Homo sapiens: one gene and its partners. The protein of the gene in region 3 interacts with the protein of the main gene of each other region in a pairwise test. Each region holds a gene or a part of one and is shown on either strand. Other genes may lie near its edges. The genes, in order: TXNDC12, WFDC2, FKBP7 and HHATL.

What was found.
Region 1: the proteins of FKBP7 (region 3) and TXNDC12 interact in binary tests that used the Homo sapiens proteins (3 or more experiments, as listed by UniProt).
Region 2: the proteins of FKBP7 (region 3) and WFDC2 interact in binary tests that used the Homo sapiens proteins (3 or more experiments, as listed by UniProt).
Region 4: the proteins of FKBP7 (region 3) and HHATL interact in binary tests that used the Homo sapiens proteins (3 or more experiments, as listed by UniProt).

Annotation. Positions count from the first base shown.
Region 1 is NC_000001.11:52,019,611-52,024,203, forward strand, and holds the end of TXNDC12 (thioredoxin domain-containing protein 12 precursor), read right to left. Parts: intron 3,965-4,593; coding exon 3,881-3,964; intron 1,403-3,880; coding exon 1,323-1,402; 3' UTR 521-1,322; downstream 1-520. UniProt on the Homo sapiens protein: Protein-disulfide reductase of the endoplasmic reticulum that promotes disulfide bond formation in client proteins through its thiol-disulfide oxidase activity.
Region 2 is NC_000020.11:45,472,721-45,479,752, reverse strand, and holds part of WFDC2 (WAP four-disulfide core domain protein 2 precursor), read right to left. Parts: intron 1-7,032.
Region 3 is NC_000002.12:178,475,573-178,483,041, reverse strand, and holds the start of FKBP7 (peptidyl-prolyl cis-trans isomerase FKBP7 isoform a precursor), read left to right. Parts: upstream 1-4,441; 5' UTR 4,442-4,542; coding exon 4,543-4,763; intron 4,764-5,828; coding exon 5,829-5,980; intron 5,981-7,469. Other genes in the region: PLEKHA3 (pleckstrin homology domain-containing family A member 3), read right to left, coding at 2,133-2,172. UniProt on the Homo sapiens protein: PPIases accelerate the folding of proteins during protein synthesis.
Region 4 is NC_000003.12:42,692,786-42,699,817, forward strand, and holds part of HHATL (protein-cysteine N-palmitoyltransferase HHAT-like protein), read right to left. Parts: coding exon 6,973-7,032; intron 6,361-6,972; coding exon 6,247-6,360; intron 6,118-6,246; coding exon 5,923-6,117; intron 5,567-5,922; coding exon 5,357-5,566; intron 4,895-5,356; coding exon 4,723-4,894; intron 4,361-4,722; coding exon 4,216-4,360; intron 4,093-4,215; coding exon 4,057-4,092; intron 1,060-4,056; coding exon of another isoform or gene 1,034-1,059; coding exon 832-1,033; intron 434-831; coding exon 292-433; intron 91-291; coding exon 1-90.

The DNA of each region.
Region 1 (4,593 bases), on a different chromosome or scaffold from region 3:
CCCGCCTCGGCCTCCCAAAGTGCCGGGATTACAGGCGTGAGTCACCGCGCCCGGCCTAATTTTGTATTTTTAGTAGAGCCGGGGTTTCGCCATGTTGGCCAGGCTGGTCTCGAACTCCCTACCTCAGGTGATTCGCCCACCTTGGCCTCCCAAAGTGCTGGGAGTACAGGCGTGAGCCACTGTGTCCAGCCAGGAAAGGTTTTAAACAGGGGAGTGATATGGATCGATTGCAGGAGGAGGGAATATTAGAGCCAATAGGCAAGTTAAGGGGCTATAGCAATAAATAGTCGAAGAGAGAAAAAGCCTGCCCCGTGCTAAAACAGTGATAGTGTGGACAGAGGAAATTCAGGTATTTAAAAAGTAAAAGAGAGGAGCCATTGTGCTCATTTGAATGTGGGAGGTGAAGGAGCAGGAGTCCTAGGTTAGGACTCCTAGATTAGGTCCTCTAGGTTAGTTTTCTTCCTGAAGTGATCTCCATCCCTCCCTCCTTTTCCAATAACAAAAAGGCCATCACAGCACATTTCCTTTTAAAGTTTTATTAAAGTTTAATGGTACAATATTTTATCTCTTTTTTTGTTAATGCCAGTACAAAAATACAGTTGATGACTTGACAAAATGGCTACACCTAGGGCTTGAAGGTTTGAGTTTCTCCAACAGTAACAAGGGAAAGCATGCTTCCACCTGGAGCCGAGTCCAAGCACACAGCCAGTCCTGCACACGCATGCGTGCAAACAGGGAAGCTCAAGCATGAGAAGAGGAAAGAGGCTGTAGAAATTTGGGAAGAAGCCCACAATTATTCCCAGGAGAAAAAAGGGAAAAAACAGGCTGATATCCTTGGTAGGGGGTAGAATAACTGATTTACACTTAGGATTTATTGTTATTGTTGTTGTTGTTGTTTTTTAATGATAAGCTACTTCTGCAATTTTAACGTTGTAGAAAAGATGCTACTAGTCTCCTTTCACCACTAAGGTGAGTAAAGTGGGAGGAAATGGGAAAAGACTCAAATACTTAAGTGCGAGGAGTAAACATCCAAGTGGCTCAAGTTTTGTGTCAGAAGGTTTCATTCTTTACATTCAATGACAAGTTGACATTTAGGTGAGAGGGAAAAGGAGAAGAAAGTCTGCCACTCTCCGCTGGATCCACAAACATGCAGACCAGCTTCTGTTAGCAGAACTCTTCCACAGTGAGAGCGCTCCTTCCAGTGTAGGTAGGAATGAGGTTTCCTGGTCGGCTTAATTGTTCTAGATGATTCCTCAATATTCCCTTCCCTGCTGCTTTCCTTCCAGAACACTAACTCTGATGAAAGAAGGGGCACATTCATGTTACAATTCATCTTCAAGATGTTTCTTTCTGAAGGCATCACCCGTCAGCCTTTCCTGAGCTTCCTTCATCCCCTGAACAACTGTGAAATAAAGATTGGAGGAAAAAAGTATGAAGTAAGTAATGTTTGACATTTGACAACCAATGTACACTTTTAAATGTTTCAGAAGAAATATGAGAGGAGTACAAGATCTGGACTCAAGATCTAGCTCTGGATTTTGGCCCTGGCAAGTCATTTATCTCTTTGAATTTGTTTCCTCATTTATAAAATGAAATAATGTAACTCACTTCACACAGTATTATAAAAGTTAAATGGGAGAATGGATAATAAAAGTGCTTTATCAACTACGAAGTCATACCAAAATCTTAGCAGTTATTTTGGCTTACCCTCTAGGATTAGAGCTGATCCCCTGTCCTAGACTGTAGATGTTCACTTCACCCCCAGGGAAGAGGAAACACCTTCCTACCGTCCCCATTGTATCTTTTGGATGAATGTTGCACTTATTTTACTTCCTGTGGAGGTTACAGATTACACTGAGGGGTGTGTGTGCTGGGGCGGGGGTGTCTCTACTGAAGGGGGTCGTCATTTCCAGTATCAACTATACATGGATGAAGCCAAGTTCTCAGGCCAAAAAAAAAAAAAAAAAAAAAGAGAGAGAGAAACCTGGAAGGAGGGCCTTAAGTAGACTCGAGATGAAACTTCTTGTCTGTCTTGGGGCATCCTGCTTATGGATTTAGACTCAAGGGGGACAGCTATTTCAGTATAGGCTCCTGAATGGTGGTTCTACAAAGCACCCCTATATAATGGCAGGCCAGAAGCTGGGTTGAGCCAGAGTCTATGAATCTTGCAAAGCCAAACCATAAGCTCATAAGAGGCAGATAATACAGTTTGTTATTTCTGTTTTGTTTTGCCTATGCCTTTAGTAAAGCTGGGTTTGAATGTTCCAGTTTCATGTCAGCTGAGAGATGGAGGATTCAGGGAAGGGTCTCATGTTCACATCTGGACTATGTCAGTGTGGAGACAGCAGTGGTAACTTGGATGAAATTCTAAAGGGAAGGTGAATCTCAAGATACAAGAATTGGAGACCTAAAGCCCAGCTGCCCTTCTCCACGTGGAAAATTTCCCTTTGATACCAATCTCCAGTGATCTGCATTTGGTTAAGGAACATGACATTCTCCTTACTCAGGGGAAGAAGGTAATAGCTTCTACAGATCTCCTCCCCGTCCCTAGTCTGAGAATAAGAGTATCAAGGACTCAAATCATAAAGTGATCAACAGCCTGGCAGCATGGCAAATAGGGACACATGGCAACTTAGCACACAACTCCCTTTCATAGATGAGGGGAAAAGGAAGGAAAGCAGCAACAATACATGGCATGAATTCCAACCCCTGCCTCCAGAATGACTGTGCTCAAAGATTAGAGAACAAAAAAGCATGACTGGCTGACGATTGCAAACTTCCTTCACTTGTTTGTGCTGGTGCTCTTCTCTCTCCTGGAACATGCTTTTCCCATTCTGCTACTGACAAGGTCTTATTCTCTAAGGCTTAATCCAGTCATTATTTCTTCTAGCAAGCCTTACAAACTCTATGTTGGGCTACATTCCCCCGCCACTTCACTTCCATAGCTTGAAATGTCCTCCTCATATCTGTCCAGAGATGAAATTTTTATCCTTCTAGGTCCGTTTACGTTTCGGGGTTTTTTTGGTTTTTTTTTTTTTTTTTTTTTGAGACAGAGTCTCGCTCTGTCACCCAGGCTAGAGTGCAATGGCGCACGATCTTGGCTCACTGCAACCTCTGCCTCTCGGGTTCACGCCATTCTCCTGCCTCAGCCTCCCGAGTAGCTGGGACTACAGGCACCTGCCACCACGCCAGCTAATTTTTTGTATTTTTAGTAGAGACGGGGTTTCACCATGTTAGCCAGGATGGTCTCAATCTCCTGACCTCATGATCCTCCCGCCTCGGCCTCCCAAAGTGCTGGGATTACAGGCGTGAGCCACCACGCCCAGCCCGCTCAGCTATTTTTTGTATTTTTAGTAGAGATGGGGCTTTGCCATGTTGGCCAGGCTGGTCTTGAACTCCTGACCTCAAGTGATCTGCCTGCCTCGGCCTCCCAAAGTGCTGAGATTACAGGTATGAGCCACTGTGCTCGGCCTATTTAAGTTTAATATCTATAAAACCTCTTAGACTTGTTCACCTAACACTATTCCTCTTCCACTGAATTTTCATAGGAAAAACAGTATTAGCTCAGTAGGAAAAAAACTAAGTTCTGGACTCAAATTCTGGCTCTGCTACTTAACTATGAAACTATGGGCAAGTGACTACCTCAGTCACTTGTGTGCCTCAGTTCTTCACAGCTGCCTGTGGGTCAGTCAGCTCTTCCAAGGGAAGGGGCTCAGTCTCATCTTCCTCCTATATCCTACACAGGATCTGGCCAAAAGCTATAGACATGCAGGAGATGCTCAGCTAACATGCTGAATTTACTTTCCTATCACAGACCTTGCATGTGGTTCATCCTAGTTCAATCTAGCAATAATCCTCCCTCCCTTCAGCATAACTATACCTTGCTCGGCACTGACATAAAAATACTTGTAGCTGGGGTTTCCATTCTCATTGATGATTTCAGGATGCACCTTGCCACTGGGATCTGTTATAGACAAAATGACACAGAGTTTTGCAGTAATTACAACAGACAGGTACTTCAAACACTACCTGGTACATCGGGCCCTCTGGGAAATAAGATCTGCCCATATTTGCAGCCCATTACCTCACCATAATACCTCCTACATTTCTGCTTCCTTTTCTGCTTGATGATTTTGACTTCTATCCCCCATAAAACCTAGCAGAATTTATGCTGAACAAAGATTAGGTGGTCATTAAATATCTCTTATAAAATTATTTGTGGAAAGACATTTATCTGGTTATATTATTCCATTGCCTTAGGTGCACTATAGGTTCAAGGGTGAGAATTCTGGCTTATATCTGTCTCTGTAGTGTCTAATACAGTGCTTGACATATGGCTGATGCGCAAATGGCTATTGAAGTGAATAAATGATCAAACTCTTTTTTTTTTTTTTGAGACAGGGTCATTCAGTTTCCTTCTGTCATTCAGGCTCAAGGGCAGTGGCGTGATTATGGCTCACTGCAGCCTTGACCTCCCAGGCTCAATTGATCCTCCCGCCTCAGCCTCCTAAATAGCTGAGACTACAGGTGCGTGCCACCACACCCGGCTAATTTTTGTACTTTTTGTAGAGACGGGCTTTCACCGTGTTGCCC
Region 2 (7,032 bases), on a different chromosome or scaffold from region 3:
TGCTCCCAAATGGAATCACAGGACCTCAGCTTGAGTCCCAAGTGGGCCTTCGTGGCCTAGGGCCAGAAATCTCCCAGAGCCTCCGTGTCTTTAGGTGCCAGTGGAACAGTGCTAATTACAACATAGGGTTGTTGTGAAAGCAGTGGGAAACAAACATATATTATTTCTCCCTGAAATATCAAACTACTCTGTAGTTATGAGAAATTATAACAGTGAACACTTAATTAGCTCTTATTACATGCCAGGTATCAAGCCCCTAACATATATTAACTCTTCTAATTCTCACAATAATCCTAAAAGAAGGGGAGGGATCTGTTAATATTTCCTTGTGTTACAAGTGAGGAAACTGAGGCACTGAGAAGTTAAGTAATTTGCCTAAGGTCACACAGAATTGAGGCAGAATTTGAACCCCAAGAAATCTAGCTGCAGAGTCTATGTGTTAACTGCTGCTGCCATGGTTAAGCACTATGCTGCCACTTAAAGTGTAAAGTACAGTACACATGTGAGGGGTTACACACTTATAATCTTCACTCATACCCACAGACCGAATCCCAGTTGCAGTCTCTCAGCACCATGACCCTCCAAATACACTCATTCATCCATGCAGAGAGAAACCACACGTCCTTCCACTAACAAACACACACACAATCACACTCCACTTCCCAGGTTAGATAGAGGGGAGCCAGGCCCAGCCAAATCCATTCATCAACTGAGGTACATCATGGTTGCTTCCAACTTTTGGCAATTATAAATAAAGCTGCTATAAATATGTGCAGGTTTTTGTGTGTAAAACACAGGCACAGAACTGGGTGATTAGCTGTAGAGGACAAGGAAAGTGGCTGACAGATCACCGGGTGCAGTGGCTCATGCCTGTAATCCCACACTTTGGGAGGCTCAGGCGGGTGGGATCATCGGAGGTCAGGACTCGAGACCCCCCGCTCTACTAAAAATACAAAAAAGTTAACTGGGCGTGGTGGCATGCACCGGTAATCCCAGCTACTTGGGAGGCTGAGGCAGGAGAATCGCTTGCACCTGGGAGACAGAGGTTGTAGTGAGCTGAGATCATGCCACTGCACTCCAGCCTGGGCGACAGAGCGAGACTCCATCTCAAAAAAAAAAAAGATTTAGGTTCAGCTTTCAAGATGGCCGAATAGTAACAGCTCCAGTCTGCAGCTCCCAGTGAATCAATGCAGAAGGCAGGTGATTTCTGCATTTTCAAATGAGGTACGTGGCTCATCTCATTGGGACTGGTTAGACAGTGGGTGCAGCCCACGGAGGGCGAGCAGAAGTAGGGTAGGGCATCATCTCACCTGGGAAGCACAAGAGGTCAGGGAACTCCCTCCCCTAGCCAAGGGAAGCCATGAGGGACTGTGCCGTGAGGAATAGTGCACTCTGGAGCAGATACTACACTTTTCCCACGGTCTTCACAACCCACAGACCAAGAGATTCCTTTGGGTGCCTACACCACCAGGGCCCTGGGTTTCAAGCACAAAACTAGGTGGCCATTTGGGCAGACACTGAGCTAGCTGCAGGATTTTTTTTTCATACCCCAGTGGTGCCTGGAATGCCAGTGAGACAGAACCATTCACGCCCCTGGAAAGGGGGCTGAAGCTAGGGAGACAAGTGGTCTAGCTCAGCGGATCCCACCCCCATGGAGCCCAGCAAGCTAACATCCACTGGCTTGAAATTCTCACTGCCAGCACAGCAGTCTGAAGTTGACCTGGAACTCTCAAGCTTGGTAGGGGGAGGGGCGTCCACCATTACTGAGGCTTGAGTAGGCAGTTTTCCCCTCACAGAGTAAACAAAGCCACCAGGAAGTTCAAACTGGGCAGAGCCCAACACAGCTCGGCAAAGCCGCTGTAGCCAGACTGCCTCTCTAGATTCCTCCTCTCTGGGCAGGGCATCTCTGAAAAAAAGGCAGCAGCCCTAGTCAGGGGCTTATAGGTAAAACTCCCATCTCCCTGGGACAGAGCACCTGGGGGAAGGGGCAGCTGTGGATGTGGCTTCAGCCTGCCTGCCGGTTCTGAAGAGAGCAGCAGATCTCCCAGCACAGCATTTGAGCTCTGCTAAGGGTCAGACTGCCTCCTCAAGTGAGTCCCTGATTTCCGTGTCTCCTGACTGGGAGACACCTTCCAGCAGGGGCTGACAGACACCTCATACAGGAGAGCTCTGGCTGGCATCTGGCGGGTGCCCCTCTGGGACAAAGCTTCTAGAGGAAGGAACAGGCAGCAATCTTTGCTGTTCTGCAGCCTCTGCTGGTGATAGCCAGGCAAACAGGGTCTGGAGTGGACCTCCAGCAAACGCCAACAGACCTGCAGCTGAGGGGCCTGATTGTTAGAAGGAAAACTAACAGAAAGGAATAGCATCAACATCAACAAAAAGGACGTCCACTCAGAAGGCCCATCCAAAGATCATCAACATCAAAGACCAAAGGTAGATAAATCCACGAAGATGGGGAGAAACCAGCACAAAAAGGCTGAAAATTCCAAAAACCAGAACACCTCTTCTCCAAAGGATCACAATTCCTCGCCAGCAAGGGAACAAAACTGGACGGAGAATGAGTTTGACAAATTGACAGAAGTAGGCTTCAGAAGGTGGGTAATAACAAACTCCTCCAAGCTAAAGGAGCATGTTCTAACCCCAATGCAAGAAAGGTAAGAACCTTGAAAAAAGGTTATAGGAATTGCTAACTAGATTAACCAGTTTAGAGAAGAACATAAATGACCTGATGGAGCTGAAAAACACAGCACGAGAACGTCATGAAGCCTATACAAGTATCAATAGCCGAATTGATCAAGCAGAAGAAGGATATCAGAGATTGAAGATCAATTTAATGAAATAAAGAATGAAGATGAGATTAGAGAAAAAATAATGAAAAGGAATGAATGAACAAAGCCTCCAAAAAATATGGGACTATGTGAAAAGACCAAACCTATGTTTGATTGATGTACCTGAAAGTGATGGGGAGAATGGAACCAAGTTGGAAAACACTGTTCAGGATATTATACAGGAGAACTTCCCCAACCTAGCAAGAAAGGCCAACATTCAAATTCAGGAAATACAGAGAACACCTCAAAGATACTCCTTGAGAAGAATAACCCCAAGACACATAATCATCAGATTCACCAAGGTTGAAATGAAGAAAAAAATGTTAAGGGCACCCAGAGAGAAAGGTTGGGTTACCCACTATGGGAGGCCCTTCAGACTAACTGCAGATCTCTCTGCAGAAACCCTGCAAACCAGAAGACAGTGGGGGCCAATATTCAATATTCTTAAAGAATTTTCAACCCAGAATTTCATATCCAGCCAAAGTAAGCTTCATACATGAAGGAGAAATAAAATCCTTTATAGACAAACAAATGCTGAGGGATTTTTCTCATCAACAGGCCTGCCTTACAAGGTCTCCTGAAAGGAGCACTAAACATAGAAAGGAACAACTGGAATCAGCAACTGCAAAAACATACCAAATTGTAAAGACCATCGACACTATGAAGAAACTGCATCAACTAATAGACAAAATAACCAGCTAGCATCATAATGACAGGATCAAACTCACACATAACAATATTAACCTTAAATGTAAACAGGCTAAATGCCCCAGTTAAAAGACAAAGACTGGCAAATTGGATAAAGAGTCAAGACCCATTGGTGTGCTGTATTCAGGAGACCCATCTCAAGTGCAAAGACACATAGGCTCAAAATAAAGGGATAGAGGAATATTTACCAAGCAAATGGAAAGCAAAAAAAAATCAGGGGTTGCAATTCTATTCTCTGATAAAACAGACTTTAAACCAACAAAGATCAAAAGAGACAAAGAAGGGCATTACACAATGGTAAAGGGATCAATGCAACAAGAAGAGCTAATTATGCTAAATATATATGCACCTAATACAGGAGCACCCTGATTCATAAAGCAAGTTCTTAGAGACCTACAAAGAGACTTAGACTCCGACATAATAATAGTGGGAAACTTTAACCCCCACTGTCAATATTAGACAGATCAATGAGACGGAAAATTAACAAAGATATCCAAGACTTGAACTCAGCTCTGGACCAAGCAGACCTAATAGACATCTACAGAACTCTCCACCCCAAATCAACAGAATATACATTCTCCTCAGCACCACATCACACTTATTCTAAAACTGACCACATAATTGGAAGTAAAACACTAATTAGCAAATGCAAAAGAACGGAAATCCTAACAGTCTCTCAGACCACAGTGCCATCAAATTAGAATTCAGGATTAAGAAACTCACTCAAGACCGCATAACCTTACATGGAAACTGAACAACCTGCTCCTGAATGACTACTAGGTAAATAACAAAATCAAGGCAGAAATAAATAAGTTCTTTGAAACCAATGAGAACAAAGACATAACATACCAGAATCTCTGAGACACAGCTAAAGCAGTGCTTAGAAGGAAATTTATAGCACTAAATGCCCACAAGGGAAAGCAGGAAAGATCCAAAATTGACACCCTAACATCACAATTAAAAGAACTAGAAAAGCAAGAACAAACAAATTCAAAAGCTAGCAGAAGACAAGAAATAACTAAGATCAGAGAGAACTAAAGGAGATAGAGACATGAAAAACCCTTCAAAAAAAATCAATGAATTCACAAGCTGGGTTTTTGAAAAACATCAACAAAATAGTCTGACTGCTAGCCATACTAATAAAGAAAAGAGAGAAGAATCAAATAGACACAATAAAAAATGACAAAGGGGATATCACCACTGATCCCACAGAAATACAATCTACCATCAGAGAATACTATAAACACCTCTACGCAAATAAACTAGAAAACCTAGAAGAAATGGATAAATTCCTGGACACATACACCCTCCCAAGTCTAAACCAGGAAGAAGTCGAATCCCTGAATCGACCAATAACAAGTTCCAAAATTGAGGCAGTAATTAATAGCCTACCAACCAAAAAAAGTCTGGGACCAGACAGATTCACAGCCGAATTCCACCAGAGGTACAAAGAGGAGTTGCTGGTACCATTCCTTCTGAAACTATTCCAAACAATAGAAAAAGAGAGCCTCCTCCCTAATTCATTTTATGAGGCCAGCATCATCCTGATACTAAAACCTGGCAGAGACACAATAACAAAAAAATTTCAGGTTAATATCCCTGATGAACATCAGTGCGAAAATCCTTAATAAAATGCTGGCAAACCAAATCCAGCAGCACATCAAAAAGCTTATCCACCATGATCAAGTTGGCTTTGTCCCTGGGATGCAAGGCTGGTTCAACATACACAAATCAATAAACGTAATCCATCACATAAGCAAAATCAATGACAAAAACCACATGATTATCTCAATAGATGCAGAAAAGGCCTTTGATAAAATTCAACACCCTTCATGCTAAAACACTCAATAAACTAGGTATTGATGGAAGGTATCTCAAAGTAACAAGAGCTATTTATGACAAACCCACAGCCAATATCATACTGAATGGGCAAAAGCTGGAAGCATTCCCTTTGAAAACCGGCACAAGACAAGCATGCTCTCTCTCACCACCCCTATTCAACATAGCATTAGAAATTCTGGCCAGGGCAATCAGTCAAGAGAAAGAAATAAAGGGTATTCAATTAGGAAAAGAGGAAGTCAAATTGTCCCTGTTTGCAGATGAAATGATTGTATATTTAGAAAACCCCATTATCTCAGCCCAAAATCTCCTTAAGCTGATAAGAAACTGCAGTAAAGTCTCAGGATACAAATCAATGTACAAAAATCACAAGTATTCCTATACACCAATAATAGACAGAGAGCCAAATCATGAGTGAATTCCCATTCACAATTGCTACAAAGAGAATAAAATACCTAGGAATACAACTTACAAGGGAGGTGAAGGACCTCTTCAAGGAGAACTACAAACCACTGCTCAACGAAATAAGAGAGGATACAAACAAATGGAAAAACAATCCATGCTCATGGATAAGAAGAATCAATATCGTGAAAATGGCTATACTGCCCAAAGTAATTTATAGATTCAATGCTATCCCCATCAAGCTATCACTGACTTTCTTCACAGAATTAGAAAAAACGACTTTAAATTTCATATGGAACCAAATAAAAGCCCACATAGCCAAGACAATCCTAAGCAAAAAGAACAAAGCTGGAAGCATCACGCTAACTGACTTCAAGCTATACTACAAGGCTACAGTAACCAAAACAGCATGGTACTGGTACCAAAACAGATATATAGACCAACAGAACAGAACAGAGGCCTCAGAAATAACACTACACATCTACAGCCACCTGATCTTTGACAAACATGGCAAAAACAAGCAATGGGGAAAGGATTCCCTATTTAATAAATGGTGTTGGGAAAACTGGCTAGCCATATGCAGAAAACTGAAACTGGACCCCTTTCCTTACACCTTATGCAAAAATTAACTCAAGATGGATTAAAGACTTAAATGTAAGACCTAAAACCATAAAAACCCTAGAAGAAAACCTAGGCAATACCATTCAGGACATAGGCATGGGCAAAGACTTCATGACTAAAACACCAAAAGCAATGGCAACAAAAGCCAAAATTGACAAATGGGATCCAATTAAACTACAGAGCTTCTGCACAGCAAAAGAAACTATCATCAGAGTGAACAGGCAGCCTACAGAATGGGAGAAAATTTTTGCACTCTATCCATCTGACAAAGGGCTAATATACAGAATCTACAAGAACTCAAACAAATTTACGAGAAAAAAACCCCATTAGAACGTGGGCGAAGGATATGAACAGATGCTTCTCAAAAGAAGACATTTATGCAGCCAACAAACATGAAAAATGCTCATCATCACTGGTCATTAGAGAAATGCAAATCAAAACCACAATGAGATAACATCTCACACCAGTTAGAATGGAGATCCTTAAAAAGTCAGGAAACAACAGATGCTGGAGAGGATGTGGAGAAATAGGAATGCTTTTACACTGTTCGTGGGAGTGTAAATTAGTTCAACCATTGTGGAAGAGAGTGTGGCCATTCCTCAAGGATCTAGAACAAGAAATACCATTTGACCCA
Region 3 (7,469 bases):
AAGCTATCTGCCTATCTCAGCCTCCCAATGTGCTGAGATTACAGGCATGAGCCACCGTGCCTGAACAACACTATCATTACACTTAAAGATCACTTAGTATGAACAGCTGCTCATTCTTATGACCTAAGATGAACTAAAATTAATAATCAGCACACCATCTACCCAAATTTAACTTTTAAAAATAAATTCTTCCAAACAAAAGATTTCTTTTCAACCAGCTTCTACAATGCATACTAGAAGTTGACTAAATGCCCTGCAAAGACTAAAATCTAAATCACATGTGATTAAAAGCTCAACCCCTGGTTATTTAGTACCATAGGAGATAAGGAAATCGCCACCAAGCCCAGGTTTCATCTCAACTCTTAAATTATGACTCATCTCAGTAATGGCCCAATGGTTCCACAACACCATGCTTAGGAACACTTGCAATGAGATGAGCATTTGCATCTCAAAGCATACAAGCTAATGTCTTTTTTTTTTTTTTTTTTTGAGACAGGATCTCGCTCTGTTAGCCAGGCTGAAGTGTGTGGGTACAATCATAGCTCACTGATCCTAGCTCACTGCAGCCTCCATTTCTCTAGCTAAAGCAATCCTTTCGCCTCCGCCTCCTCAGTAACTGGGACTACAGGTGTGCACTACCACACCTAGCTGTTTTTTGTTTTTGTTTTTGTTTTTTTAGTAGAGACCACGTCTCCCTATGTGGCCCAGGTTGGTCTTGAGCAAGCAATCCTCCCACCTCCGCCTCCCAAAGTGCTGGGATTACAAGCATGAAGCACTCTACTGTCTTTAACAGTTAACACTATACCTCAACCAAACAGTATAACTGCTCTCACAATGGCCAAAATGAAAATGCCCAATAAAAAATATTTATCTAACTTTTAAATGTTTCCCGTTAAAACATGTCACTTATAGAAATAAATTGAGTTTTTAGTTTGAACAAAATAAAACATCTGTGTATCATAAATGTTAAAAGCATTTGCTGCTACAAATCTGGCTTTAGCATTCTAATAAATCAAAAAGCAGGTATAACTGTAGCTCAGTGCTTATGCCTTAAAAAGTTTACCTGCACATTTTGCACAAGATCAGGTGGACACAAGTCGAGAGTACCACACAATTACTGAGGGATGTGATACTTTTGGCAGAGCGAAGAAGTGGGCAGCAAGTCATGATTTGCCTATTATGCTAGACCCCCCCCCCCCAAAAAATCTGTTTACTGTTCAAATTTATGTTAAAACCATCTTCTCACTTAGTGAGGTCATGGAATTCTGGAGTTGGAAGGCATCCCGGGGCAAAATAACTAATCACCCTGGCCTTATCAGACTGAGGTCCTGAAAGAATAACTGACTTGCCTTCATTGTTGGTTGATGGCAGAGATTGGACTACAACTCAAATTTAAGGAGCTTTTAAATAAGCCTACAGGCTGCCAATGTCATGGTAAGGGGCCCTTTCCTGCTGGTCTCTCATTTCTTCAAAGTTTTTCCTTCCAACCCACTTCACAGGTGAAAGTGACTTGCCTGTTCCCCTTCTGTGTATTGACACTTTCTTCCACTATTTCTCAGTTAACAGAATTCCCCAACGTAAGGATACTTCAATGACAATCCCTAAGAGAATATTATCTGGGGACAGCTTCCAAAATCATGCTCGCTAAGCTTGAACAACCTCAACAAGACAACGTTTTAAATAAAATGTTAAGGAAATTAAAAGAAATACAAAAAAGAATTAAAATTAAATCTTGTAGTTGAAACAATTAAAGGGTCCATTCCAGTCCAATACTCCGACAACTCAGTTATTAACAAAATGCTCTTAAAGTATGAATACTAAGTGTGAATAAGGACGGAGATCGCAACAACACATGTAGGGTGACTGAGAATTGTTCCTGAGGCTACAGGAGGCAAGGATTAGTATTATTACACTAGCAAAGAAGTGGCAGGTGCACTTCCCACCCTCTAGAAGGTGCGCAGCCTCAAACCCTCCCCTGAAGAGGCCAGAAGGACTCAACAAGCCCTGGAATCGAGTAGAGCGAATTCGCTCTGAGGGTCCGCGGAGGCCAGACGGAGGAAGAGGAGCCCCGACCCGCCTTCTCAGCAGCCCCCCGCCTCTCCCCTCTTCCCTCATCACACGAGCCCCCATACCTGTGAGATAGTTGGTCCACTTGTACAACACCCCCTCCATGCTTCAGAGCCCCACACCGCGCATCCTCCCGGCCCGGCGCCGGCCGCGGTGATGGGGTAGGCGCAGGGCCTGGGGCAGCCCCTCCCGGCCCGCCCGGGCCCCCTCCGCCGGCACGAAGCCGCTTTCTGCCTGCGCGCGCCGCAGGGACGTGGCGGCCTTTAGAGGCCGGGACAGCGGGCGCAGCGTGGAGCTTGGGGGCCGCGAGGCGCGGGCCCAGACATTCCCGGGTAAGCCTCGGCGGCGGCGGCCGCGACAACGGCAAAAATGCGCCCGCGACCGGCCTCCTGCTCGCGCTTCCGCAGCCCGGCTGCTCCCTCCGGCGCCCCGGCGCTGCCTCTTCCTCGCCTGCCTTCCTTCCCCCTGGGCTCCCCGTTTGTTTTCATTGACCCCGACGTCGATTTCACTTCCTGGATGAAAGGGGCCGGATCGTCCCGGGAAACCCCTCCCCGGCGGCGGGGCTGAAGGAGCGGGCGCGGCCTGCGGCCTCGCCGCCTAGCCGGAGGCTGCGCGAGGAGGGCGGGCCGGCGCGTCACACCCTCGGCCTGCCAGCCAGGGCCGCCTTTACTCCTCCCACGGGCCGGTGGCCAACAGTCCCGAGGCTCCCAAGTTTCCCCTTGGCCGCCAAGGCCCAGGCTGACCGCCCCCGGGGGACAAGACCTTCGAGCTCCGCTGCGCGCGCAGCCCCGGTGCCTACCTAAGGAGGAGCTGCCCGCACACTCATCCCGCGGGCACTTAGTTCTCTCGGGTTTTCCTGGGTTTTCTTCAGAAATACATAATATCCTGTTTCTTCATGAAATCCTGTTTTTATTTTACATAAAATCCTGTTTTTTCTTCAAAAATACATAAAAGCCTTCCTATTTCTGTTTGCTTCGTATTTTCCTCATATTCAAGGGGTCTGAAATTATCTCCTAGGAAGGCAATGTGCAGCAGACGGGGTCCTCTGACAAGGAATGGCGAGGGCCCCCAAGGAACTGTCATCACGCCGATAACCTTGGATAGCCACAATTTTATTTAGAATATAAAACATGGAACTCGACTTCGGAATTTTAGTCTAGAAATGGGGACTTCCCCCTAGCTTTTATGATTTTTGAAACTCCTGCTTGGACGCAATTGTCATCTTGCATAATCGACAGTAATTTTCAGGTTTATGGAATTTTGCAAACTTTAAGCAAAGCACATCAATCAGGCTCAGTGCTGCGGCTTTTCTTCGCATCACCGAGGTAGAATAGCACCTCTACTCCCAGAACTTAATCCAGGCGAATGCAGAAGGCCTTTGCTGGTTTTCTGGTTTGGGTAGTCTTTGGGTATTCACTTGGAAACAAGGCGAATTGATGGATGGATAGAGTGATGGATGGATATGTAATAAATATAATATAGTTCAATGACAGGATCCAGATGGTGGGTGTAGGAGAGTTTACTGTAGAATTCAACTTTCTGTGTATTTTAAAGGTTTTCATACTAAAATTGGTGGTGAAGTGGTGTTGTCACACAGATTTGACCAAATCCCTGCTGCGTATTAGCTGTGAGATTGGGACAACATGCCCAATACTCAAGTTTTCTTGACTGATGTGGACAATTACGTATCCCATGGGATGGTACAAAAAAGTCAAAAGAACATTCCCCGCACTACCAGAGGCCCTCGAATCAAGGGCGGCCCCGAGTGGCGGGGAAAAGAAATGCAAGCCAGCGGAGGATGCTGAATTGTGGAGGTCGGCTCTCGGAAACGCCTGCAGCCAGGCAGAGGAGTTGCGGTACCGCAGTTTCGTTGCATCGGGCTGGCCTTCAGGTTGTGCGACTCAGCCTGGAACCTCTGAATGCAAGATTCCGACCTGAGAATGCGCTTCAAGGACACCTCCGAAGCACCCAGAAAGCCACCGCCAGCCTATTTTTTACGCTCCTTTTCCAGCATGCCTCTCCCTCCCCCCAGTATCTATCTGCTCGTTCCCTAGGGGTCTTAGAAGCCTTTTGCTTCCAGAAATGACAACCATATTCCCTGACTCTACGACATCCCAGGCTGTTTATTTCGTCTTATGCCAGTTTCATTTTAGAAAATGCGAATGTTGTCACCGAACCCTGAGGAAACCTGCTGTAAAATACGCGGGTTTAGCGAGAAGAAGCGGAGCGAGTGTGCGTTGCGATCTTAAAGACTGAGGACAGCCAGCCCGAGGGCCTAGAAACAGCGTTAACCGCGCTGAGCCCGCTGCGGGAGGCGGAGGGGTTGGGGCCATGAGAGGGCGGGGCCGCATCTATGGCCCCGCCCCGGCCCTTTGTGACGCAGGACAACGCCTGCCACGCGTCGGAACTCGGCCGCGGGACATCCACGGGGCGCGAGTGACACGCGGGAGGGAGAGCAGTGTTCTGCTGGAGCCGATGCCAAAAACCATGCATTTCTTATTCAGATTCATTGTTTTCTTTTATCTGTGGGGCCTTTTTACTGCTCAGAGACAAAAGAAAGAGGAGAGCACCGAAGAAGTGAAAATAGAAGTTTTGCATCGTCCAGAAAACTGCTCTAAGACAAGCAAGAAGGGAGACCTACTAAATGCCCATTATGACGGCTACCTGGCTAAAGACGGCTCGAAATTCTACTGCAGGTAGGAAATGCTGCGAGCTGCCCGTGCGTCCAGTTGCACAAAATCTTGCCTGCCTCCACCAAGCGGAAGCCTCATTGGTTGGTTGGTTGGGGTTTTATTTTTTAACGGTAAAAGTTGAGCCCTTTATTCATTAAAAAAAATCACATTATATGGCAGTGTTTCTCTAATAAACTGAATATTTTTATTTAAAGTATTGAAAATGTTGTGGCAATAAATTATCAAAAATACGATACATCCACACACACATCAACCACCACCATTACCCTTGGGACCTCCAGAATTAAATCAAGGTTCTGCCTATAAGGATGTTCACATTTTTCCCTTGCCAGAAGTATTGAGTCTTTACGGAGGAATACATGGAATAAAGAGATTTAATTCTGGCCTTCAGAAGCACGATTTTTATAGGTTGTGGCCACTTTCTATCAAGAAAAACAGTTACTTCCCTGGTGACTTCTGGTGGGCCCTGCTCCCTCATTCCACCTGGTGCCTACTCTGATTTAATTGATGGCTTATTACTCAGAGGGAGAATCTTTTCTTTACCCTGTAAAGATAGGACTGGGAAAAACAGTTCCATCCATTTAGAATAAAATAGAGAAATTTAATAAGAATTTATACAATTTTATAATTTAATAAGAATTTAATAAATTATATCATTAGAATTTAATAAGAAAATATACCATTTTAAATTACTATTAAAATGACTTTTTGAGGCTAAAACTGCCCTATCATTTTTTTACAACAAACCCAGGGAGTTAAATGAGTTCTTTGTACAAGCCATGCACCTAGTTAGGGGCTGGAGACCCATTAAAAAGTTAACTGTTGAATAGTTTTTGTAAAGATAACAATTTTAAAAAATGAGATGGCTGTTAATGATTAACTTTGGGCAAATCATACTTCTTTCTGGTGATTATAGGGAAGTTTGAGTCAAACACCCCATTAAGGGTTTTAGAAAGAGTGATTATATGGGAATGATGGTTAGAGAGGACTCCAATTTTAAATGCCCAGCTGTATTTTCAAGTTTGATTTCTTGAAATCAGTTTACTTAAGTATTGCTTTTTGTTATAGCCGGACACAAAATGAAGGCCACCCCAAATGGTTTGTTCTTGGTGTTGGGCAAGTCATAAAAGGCCTAGACATTGCTATGACAGATATGTGCCCTGGAGAAAAGCGAAAAGTAGTTATACCCCCTTCATTTGCATACGGAAAGGAAGGCTATGGTAAGATGTTTAATTTTAATTTCTTGTTTTAGTTATATTTAAAAAATGATTAATAGATTTCTGGGTATATAGGTCTGAAAGAATTGAAAGCACAGTCTCAAAGAAATATTTGTACAGCCATGCTCATAGCAGCCATGTACAATAGACAAGAGATGGAAGCAAGCCACATGTCCATACATAGAGAAATGGATAAACAAAATGAATACATGCATATATGGAAGCCAGGCACAGTGGCTCATGCCTGTAATCCCAACACTTTGGGAGGCCAAGGTGGTAGAATCACTTGAGGCCAGGACCAGCCTGAGCAACAGCAAGACCCTGCTCTACAAAAAAAAAAAAAAAAAAAATGAAATGGAATATTATTCAGCCTTAAAAAGGAAGAAAATTCTGAGACATGCACCAACATGTATCAGCCTTGAGGACATTATGCTAAATGAAATAAACCAGTCACAAAAAGACAAATACTGTATAATTCCATTTATGTGAGGTACCTGGAGTAGTCAAATTAATAGAGACAAAGTAGAAGGGTGATTGCCAGAGGCTGAAGTGAGAGGGAAAAGGGGAATTGTTGACCAATGGGTATAGAGTTTCATTTTTGCCAGATGAAGAGTTCTGGAGATTGGTTGCATGGTAGTGTAAGCGTACTTTACTGAACAACACACTTGAAAATTGTTATGATGGTAAATTTTATGTTATGTGTATTTTACCACAATTAAAAACAAAAAAGTGAAATAAAAAATGATAGATGAAATAAAGAGAACAGTAAAGCCCAATGACCTTAAGCTCTATCTAGTTCAGTCCAGTCCCTTCTTTTTGCTTATAAGGATAATATGACATTGTTTGAATATAGATCTCTGGCCAGAGTTCTTTCTTCTACATTGTGGCAACACTCATGATGATTATATATATTCTATAAGCTCTACCTTAAGCATTTTTATTTGTTTTCAGCATATGTTATTATTACATAAATATTTATAACACAGATCTTTGGTAAGCAGTACCAAAGTTAAATTCATAAAACTCAGAAACTGGAACATGTAGGTTTAGAGTAAAAGGACAGGACGGGCACATTGTAAAAGGAACAGCTGAGATATAATGGGCTGTCAGTCATTATTACCCCAATACAGGACAAGCCTTCAAATGTGCAAGAAATGATCTTATTCTTTCAATATCTTGTCATTTTAAAAATCCTACAGCAAAAAGATCTGAAAACCTAGGTAAAGCAAATAAGCGGGAAAAATGTTTGTAACATGTATGAAGACTTGCTAACCAATAATGAAAATGACATATCCCTAGAAATGGGCCAAATTCATAAATAAGCACCCACTAACAAAAAACTACAAATGGCCTTTAAGTCTATGAGAATACTTAATTTTATTCATAAAGAGAAATTAAAAATGAGACATCATATTTCACTCATCAGATTAGCAAACACAAAACAACTTGGCAAAAGCATGGAAAAACCAGCATTATTGCTGGGAATGGAAAT
Region 4 (7,032 bases), on a different chromosome or scaffold from region 3:
CCTCCAGTGCCAAGGTTCGCTCACGCTCCTTTACCAGCTGGACGCCACAGTAGGTGACAAACAGGATGGACAGCGTGGTCTGGGGGAACCCTGTGTGGGGAGGGAGTCATAGATGCTCAGGAGCAGCACTGCATCCTCAGCGACTTTTGTCTTCCCACCCCTCTCCCCGCTTGATGGGCCCTCCCTTCTGAGTCCCAGGGGTGATGAGGGAGATAGGAGGCATTTTGGAAGGTCACGGTCCTTGAGGCTGATGCCTGGCACCTTCTGTATCCCCACACCCCTGTCCCTCACCTGTGAGTAGCAGGCGCCGGGCAACCAGCTCTGTGAATTTGAGGCTGTTCAGGCTCACAAGGTTGTACATGATGATGGCCCAGAAGTTCATGGCTCCAAACAGGGCCCGGACCCTACGGGACATCTGCACTGACAGAGAGGCCTATCCGGTCCAGGAAAGCATGGGCAGCGGGACAAGAGGCCAAAGGAAAGAGGACATGGTGGGTCAGCAGCCTTACCCACCTGGCCAGTCAGGTCTTGGGGCTATGTCTGGGTCTCGGAGAGCCCCAGGTCAGCTCTCCCTCCTTGTTAAACATGGGGAAACAGGTCCAGAGAGAGGACAAGGCCTGACCAACATGGCAAGGCCCAGGTGCTCCATTCCTCATAGAAGGGAGGGAGGGGCAGATTCCTACAGAGTGAGCCATTGCTCTGACAACTAAGAGGGTGGTGGTGAGAAAGTTCTGGATTAGGGGCCAGGTGTTTGGACAACTCCAGAAAGCAGCAGTGCCCCCCCGCCCTCTATGACCCAGCCAGTCCCAGCCCCAGGTCTTCCCTGCTCACCTCAATTCGTGCTAGGGGCCCCCACTCTGCCAGTTTTTGCATCCAGAGCTCAAAGTTGAGGCCAAAGCAGTTAAGGAATGACCACAGGTAGACAATGTCACAAGGCCCAAGCCACAGTGTGGTGATGGCAAATGTGGCCACTGTGGCTGCCAGCTCTGGGATCACAGCGGAATGCTCCCCACCAATGTGGTTATACACATATCTGCAGGAAAGATGGGAGAAGGGCCACTGGGAGTGTGGGAAAGGGCAGGGATGAGATGGGAGAGGACACACAACAGGGCGTCCTCCTCAACACTGTCACCCTGGGTGCATTCAACATTCCTGACCTCACGTAGCAGCTCCTCCTCCAACCAACTTCAAATTGTGGCAGGCTCAGCCTGGGACATTATAGCTTCTCTATCTCTGTTCGTTTACTTCCCAAATGATCTCATCCAGACCCAAGATTTCAAGTACTAGCTCTATGACGATGACCCCTAAATCTGTGTCTTTAGCCCAGTCTCTCCTGATTTGTATATGCAATTGCTACTAGCCATGTCACTTGATTGACAGATTCCCCTATCCCTGCTCAAACCCAGCTCCGTCCTCATCTCAGTGAATGGCACCACCATCCATTCAGTTGCTCAGGGTATAAGCCTTGGTGCCATCTTGGATTCTCAGTTTGCCTCATCACCCACATCCAAGCAAGCCAGCAAATTCTGTTGGCTCCTCTCAGTCCTGACCACCACTCACCTCCTCTACCACCACCACCCTAGTCAAGATGATCACTCTTCTCACATAAATTATTGCAAGAGCCTCTTAAGTGGTCTTCTTGTTTCTGCTTTTGCCCCCATGGTTCATTCTCCACACAGCAGCCAGAGGCATCTTTTAAGAGTGTAGCTCAGGTCACATCACTTCCATGATTAACCTCTCTGAATAGCTCCCCATTACAATAGGAATAAACTCAGTCTCTTTACTCTGGCTAGAAGATCCCAAGTGGTCTGGTTTCTGTTCCCTTCCTGACCAAATCAGCCACCATGCTCCCCCAGTTCATCATGCTGGCCTCACTGGCCTTTCTTACCTTTACACCCACACAGTTGGTTTGTGTCTCAAGGCCTTTGCCCTTGTTGTTCCCTCTACCTGGTATTCTCTGCTCCACATCTCCTTATCACTCAAATCTCAATTCAAATATCATCTCCTCAGAGAAGCCTGCCTAGACCCCGACTAAAGAAGCTTCTACCCTGTTGTCAACTTCTATCCCATTGCAATTTTATTTTCTTCATAACACTTACCACTCTCTAAAATTATCTTATTTATGTTTGTTTACCTGTTTATGGTCTGTTTCTCCCCACTAGACTGTAAGCTCCATGAGTTCAGGGTCTTTGCCATGTTCACTGCTGTATCCCCAGTGCCTAGAACAATGCCTGGCACATAGGTGCTCAATAAATATTTGTTAAATAAGTTCTGTGGAAGACCCAGGAATAACCAGCCTCTCCATTCCTCGACCTCCTCATTTCCAATGGCTTTTTCTCCACTCCACCTCAGCCACCCACACCCATGGCCATGCCCCAACTTTGTCACCACTTGAAAGTTCACTCCTTTCTAATTCCCATTCTTTGCCCAACTCCTCTTGACCTCCTGGCCCCCCAGCTTCAGTTCTTCAATCCCATTGATCTTGTGACCCTCCCACCTTCACCACCGTCCTTAGCAGGCTTATATCCAATGAGTCATGACTATAAATAATCTAAAAACCCTTATTCCTGACTTCTTCCTTGTCATCCATCTGGGAGAGCCCAATCACTTACTTTCTCCTCAGCTACACCCAGGCAGCTAAGCCCCATGGGGGAAATCTCACATCTTCACATGCTGGAGTTCATAAGCCCACCACCTCCAATACCACCTGGGTACTCAGTGCCAAGATTTCTCTAGTCAGCTGCTTCTCCCTTGCTCTGCAAGGGCCACTGTATTCTTATCTCCCCACAAGTATGAGTGGAGAGATAGTATGAGTGGGGGGATCCAGGCTGGGTTGTGGGGGTAAGCATATATGTTGCCTCTCTCCACGTCCCTGTCCTGGCTTTCTCAGCTGATGGCCGTGCCTCCTGCTTCATGGACAAGGCTGAAGCCTTCAGGTGGAATCCCTTACTTGTCTACATTAACCTGCTTTCCTCTGCATCCACACTGGCTTCTCTTCCTCCTCCTCCCACTGAAGCCAGGCCTCCGCCTGGAACTAGACACCCTCACCTCCTTCCTCTTCAGGGACCTCACTCCATCAATCACCCCTGTATCCTGCATCCCCAGCTTCTCTGTTGAATAATTCTTCTTAGCATGTCCCATTCTCTCCTATCTTTAACACATCCCTCTTCTCCCTCAGCCACTCCTGTCTTCCCCCTGCAGTCCCAGGCTTCTTCCAGGAGTCATCACACACTTCTCTACTCCTCAGTTGACTTTCCCTCCTTACCTGCTCCTGCCTTGCCCATGAAAGGCTGAAAACCTCCATGTCACCAGCACTAATCCTCGGTCTCCAGCTTCCTTGAGGCTCAGTGGCATCTGACCAAGCTGTCCCCACCATGCCTGGATGGTCTTCCCTTGGCTTCCAGGGTGGCACATGACCTTGATTCTTCTCCTGCCCCTCCAACTACTCTTTCCAGTCCTTTCTGCTGGCTCCTTTTCCTTCCAAGCAGAGCTCTTGCAGGCTGAATCTCGGCCATCCCCGTCTCTCCTCTTCTCACACCACTCCCTCTCCTGAGGACTTACCCACTCCCAAAGCCTAAAAACCACCTGCCCACACTCAGGACGCTCTGAGTTCCATCAGTCCTCTGGACCCTCAGAAACCCAGACCCTCAGACCCAACCACCTCCCTGAACCTCCACAGGGATGTCTCCTAGATTGCGACTATACATTTCTTAAACTGAAGCCCTCTCTGGAAACTGCCCTCCATCCTCCCAGGCTGCAGACAGCAATTTGAGCGTCATCTCCTTCTCCTTCCCAACACCCACAGTTCATGGCCACGTCCTGTTCAGGCTGCTGACTGTGTGACCCTCCTCCCACCACCTCTCTCCACCTCGAGGGCCCTCACTTAAATCCTAACTTCTATATCTTTCACCCAGACCTCTGCCAATACCTCCTCACTGCCCTCTTTGCTTCCCCTGGCCCAGGGGTGATCTTTTAAAATGTGGACCCATCTTGGCACTGCCCTGCTCAGACACCTGGCAGGATGGCTGTGACCACCCCCACCCCACTCCTACTCACTTGCAAAGCCAGTCGTTGATGCCACGGTCAAAGTGCCTGTAAGAGGAAAGCAGATGGGCATGTTGCCATCAGGCGCAGAGCTCCCCAGGCATGGGGGAAGAGGCTAGGGGAAGGTGTGGTCCCAGGGGGTGAGCCTCCCCCGTCCTGGCCAGCACTCACGTTTCCGCAAAGACGTAGAGTGCGGTGATGCACTTGGGAGGCTGGGGTGGGTCCAGGTGGTCGAGGCATGCCACAGTGTTGACAACACCAAAGAGGACGGCCGCCTTCACCCAGTCATACACCAGGTTTGAATAGGCTAGGCCAGCTGGGGGCAGGGCACTGTCACTGCCTGGGGTCCAATCGCCTGGGGCCTGCCCCCATGAAGACCCTGTCCCACCACTTCCTTGGGGAGACACCAGGCTCTGCCCGCCCCACGGAGACCCCCCCATATTGTGGAAATCAGTCATGCCTGGTGAAGTGGGTGGGGTCCGTGGGATGCTGCTCTGGCCCCACAGGATGAAGCTAATGCCAAGACCCATGCATTAGAAAGAATAAGCCCCTGCTCCCACGCCCTCAGGTGCTGTGCCCTGCGTGCCTCAGCTCCCCTGACTGTGGCACCGTGGGGGTGCAGAGGGTCTGTTTTCCTGGGGCGGCAGCCCTGCCCCCATTTCTCTTCTGTGGACCCACCGAGGGCACTGTCTGGGAGGCGGTTGGCGAACTTGAGGTCGCTGGGGATAGTGAGGATGTAGAAGAAGTGAAAGAAGATGTCGACGGCCATGATGGCCACCACGCTTAGGCCTGCCTGGGCTCGGATGTGCCACAGCTCACCCTCGCGTCTCACTGGCTCCACCTGGCTCACCTGGGGGGATGCGAAGGGTCTGAGGGAAGAGGCAAGCCCTGCCTGGGGAGCCCTGTCTGAGGGGGGCTCACCAACTACTTGGGGCAGGAGGAGCCATGGCTTTATCCAGGAGTCCTGCCTGAGGGTGGAGACAGAGGTCACCCTGGAGTCTGAGGAGGATTCACAGCCAGCCATGGGAGACCCAGTTCTGTCCTGGGAGCCCCATTTGAGTGGGAAGGGAACATTCGTGGCCTGGGAGTCCTGTCTGAGAAAAGAGACATGTCTCCACCCTGGGGTCCCTGCTGGAGGGGAAAGGTGGCCCCATCCTGGGGTCTGAGGAGGGAGGGGAGACACGGCTTCATCCTGGAATCATGCCTGAGGATGGGGATACAGCCTGCTTGGGGAATTCTATCTGAGATGGAAACCCCAATCTGAAAAGGGAGATTCAGCCCTGTTCTAGAAGCCCACAGGGTGTCCCCTCACCTGAGCATGGAAGCGATCAAAGGTCATGATGGGCCCGAAGAAGAAGAAGGGCAGGTAGAAGTTGTACTTGAGCAGGTCAGCTAAGGAGTAGTGGCGGTCAGGGTGGGCACAGCTCTCCAGTGCAAAGCTGGTGCAACGCAGCACTGTGAAGCTGCTGCCCCCATGAAACAGCACCTCTTGAAGATCAAAAGTGCCTGTTACAAACCCGCTCTGGAGGGGGAAAGAACAGGCCACCAGCTCACTAGGGTGCCTCCTGTCTCTGGAAAACCTATTCCCCACTCCCTAGCTTCCCACAGGGGCCCAGCCTGGTCCTGTCCCTTCCTCTCTTCCAGAGCCAGTTAACTTTGGCCACTGCTCTATCCCAGCAATGCGAGGAGCAGGGGATGATCTGGATAGTTCCTCCTGTGATGCAGGTGCTCACCTTGTGGCCAGGACATACCCAAAGGCTTGAAGACAGGTGGAAAGTGAAGGGAATACTTGGGGATACTTGGGGTGCAAGGACTTTGGATGAAGTGAGAGGTTTGGGATCTTATCCCTACACCCTCTACCCCTGCACCAGTTCACACCTGCCAAGAGATTAGGGGGTCCATCTTGAAGGAGGCCAGGCTGGCCAAGCCAAGGCCAAGACAGAGCCAGGGCTGGCCCAAAAGCGAGGCCACATAGAGGCCCACACAGTGACCAAGCAGCAGCAGCAGGTACCAAGGGCCCATTGTGCCCATCACAGCCAAGGCCCCGTACACAGCATACATCCAGGAGCGGAGCTGTGGGCAGGGAGAAGGCTTCAGTTTCGCCATATAAATGGGGGCGTGACCCCAGGAGGGGGTTCCCACAACCCTTGTGGTGAAAGAGGAGCTGGCAGGGAGAGGCTGGGTGGCCCAGGTCCAGCTCACCTTTGGGGCAACCATCGTGCAGAGTTTAGCAAACAGCACATGTCCGGAGAGGGCAAAGATGATGACGTTGCGAAAGGAGGTGAACCACATCACCCACTCGAAGTCAGCCACATCCTGGGGCAGTCCGGGGCAGAAGGAGGTGGGGCAGGTGAGGGTGGGAGAGGGGACAGGACGAGCTGGAACCTGGGCTGGTCAGAGCCCCAGCACCTTTCCCAGCCTTCATGTTCTTCTTTTATTATTATCATTTTTAAATTTAATAATAATAATTATTTTTTACCACTAGCCAAACCCAACGTGTCCTCTTTATGCAAACACAAGAGCAGTGCCTGCAGGTCTCCACACTCCTCTGTGAAGGAAGTACCGAGGCAGGAGGGTAGAGAGGAGTGAAGGGCACCATGGGGGCTGCCGGGTCGCTTGAAGCTCCCCCTCTCCTCCGCACGTTGCCTGCCATTCCCCCTTTACTGCTTTGTTTCTGGGAAGGAGGTGCTGGAGGCTCCACTGAAGCACACTCCACTAATGCGACCTATTTCCCAAGTGAGCAGGGCCCGGGCAAACTTGATGTCCCAGGAGGATACAGGAGGGGCCAGTAAAGAAGCTGAAGGCACTGAAGCTCAAGCCAGAGGCCCCAGAGCTGTGAGAAGCTCTCTGTTACTTGCCAACATCTGGAACAGCAGAGAGCAGAGAAGGGTTCGGGATGGGAGGGACCCTGGGATGTGGGGGACCTACCATCTTCCGGCCAATGTACTCCCAGCCAGGTCGCACAGACTCCCGGAAGGCCTTCCTGTG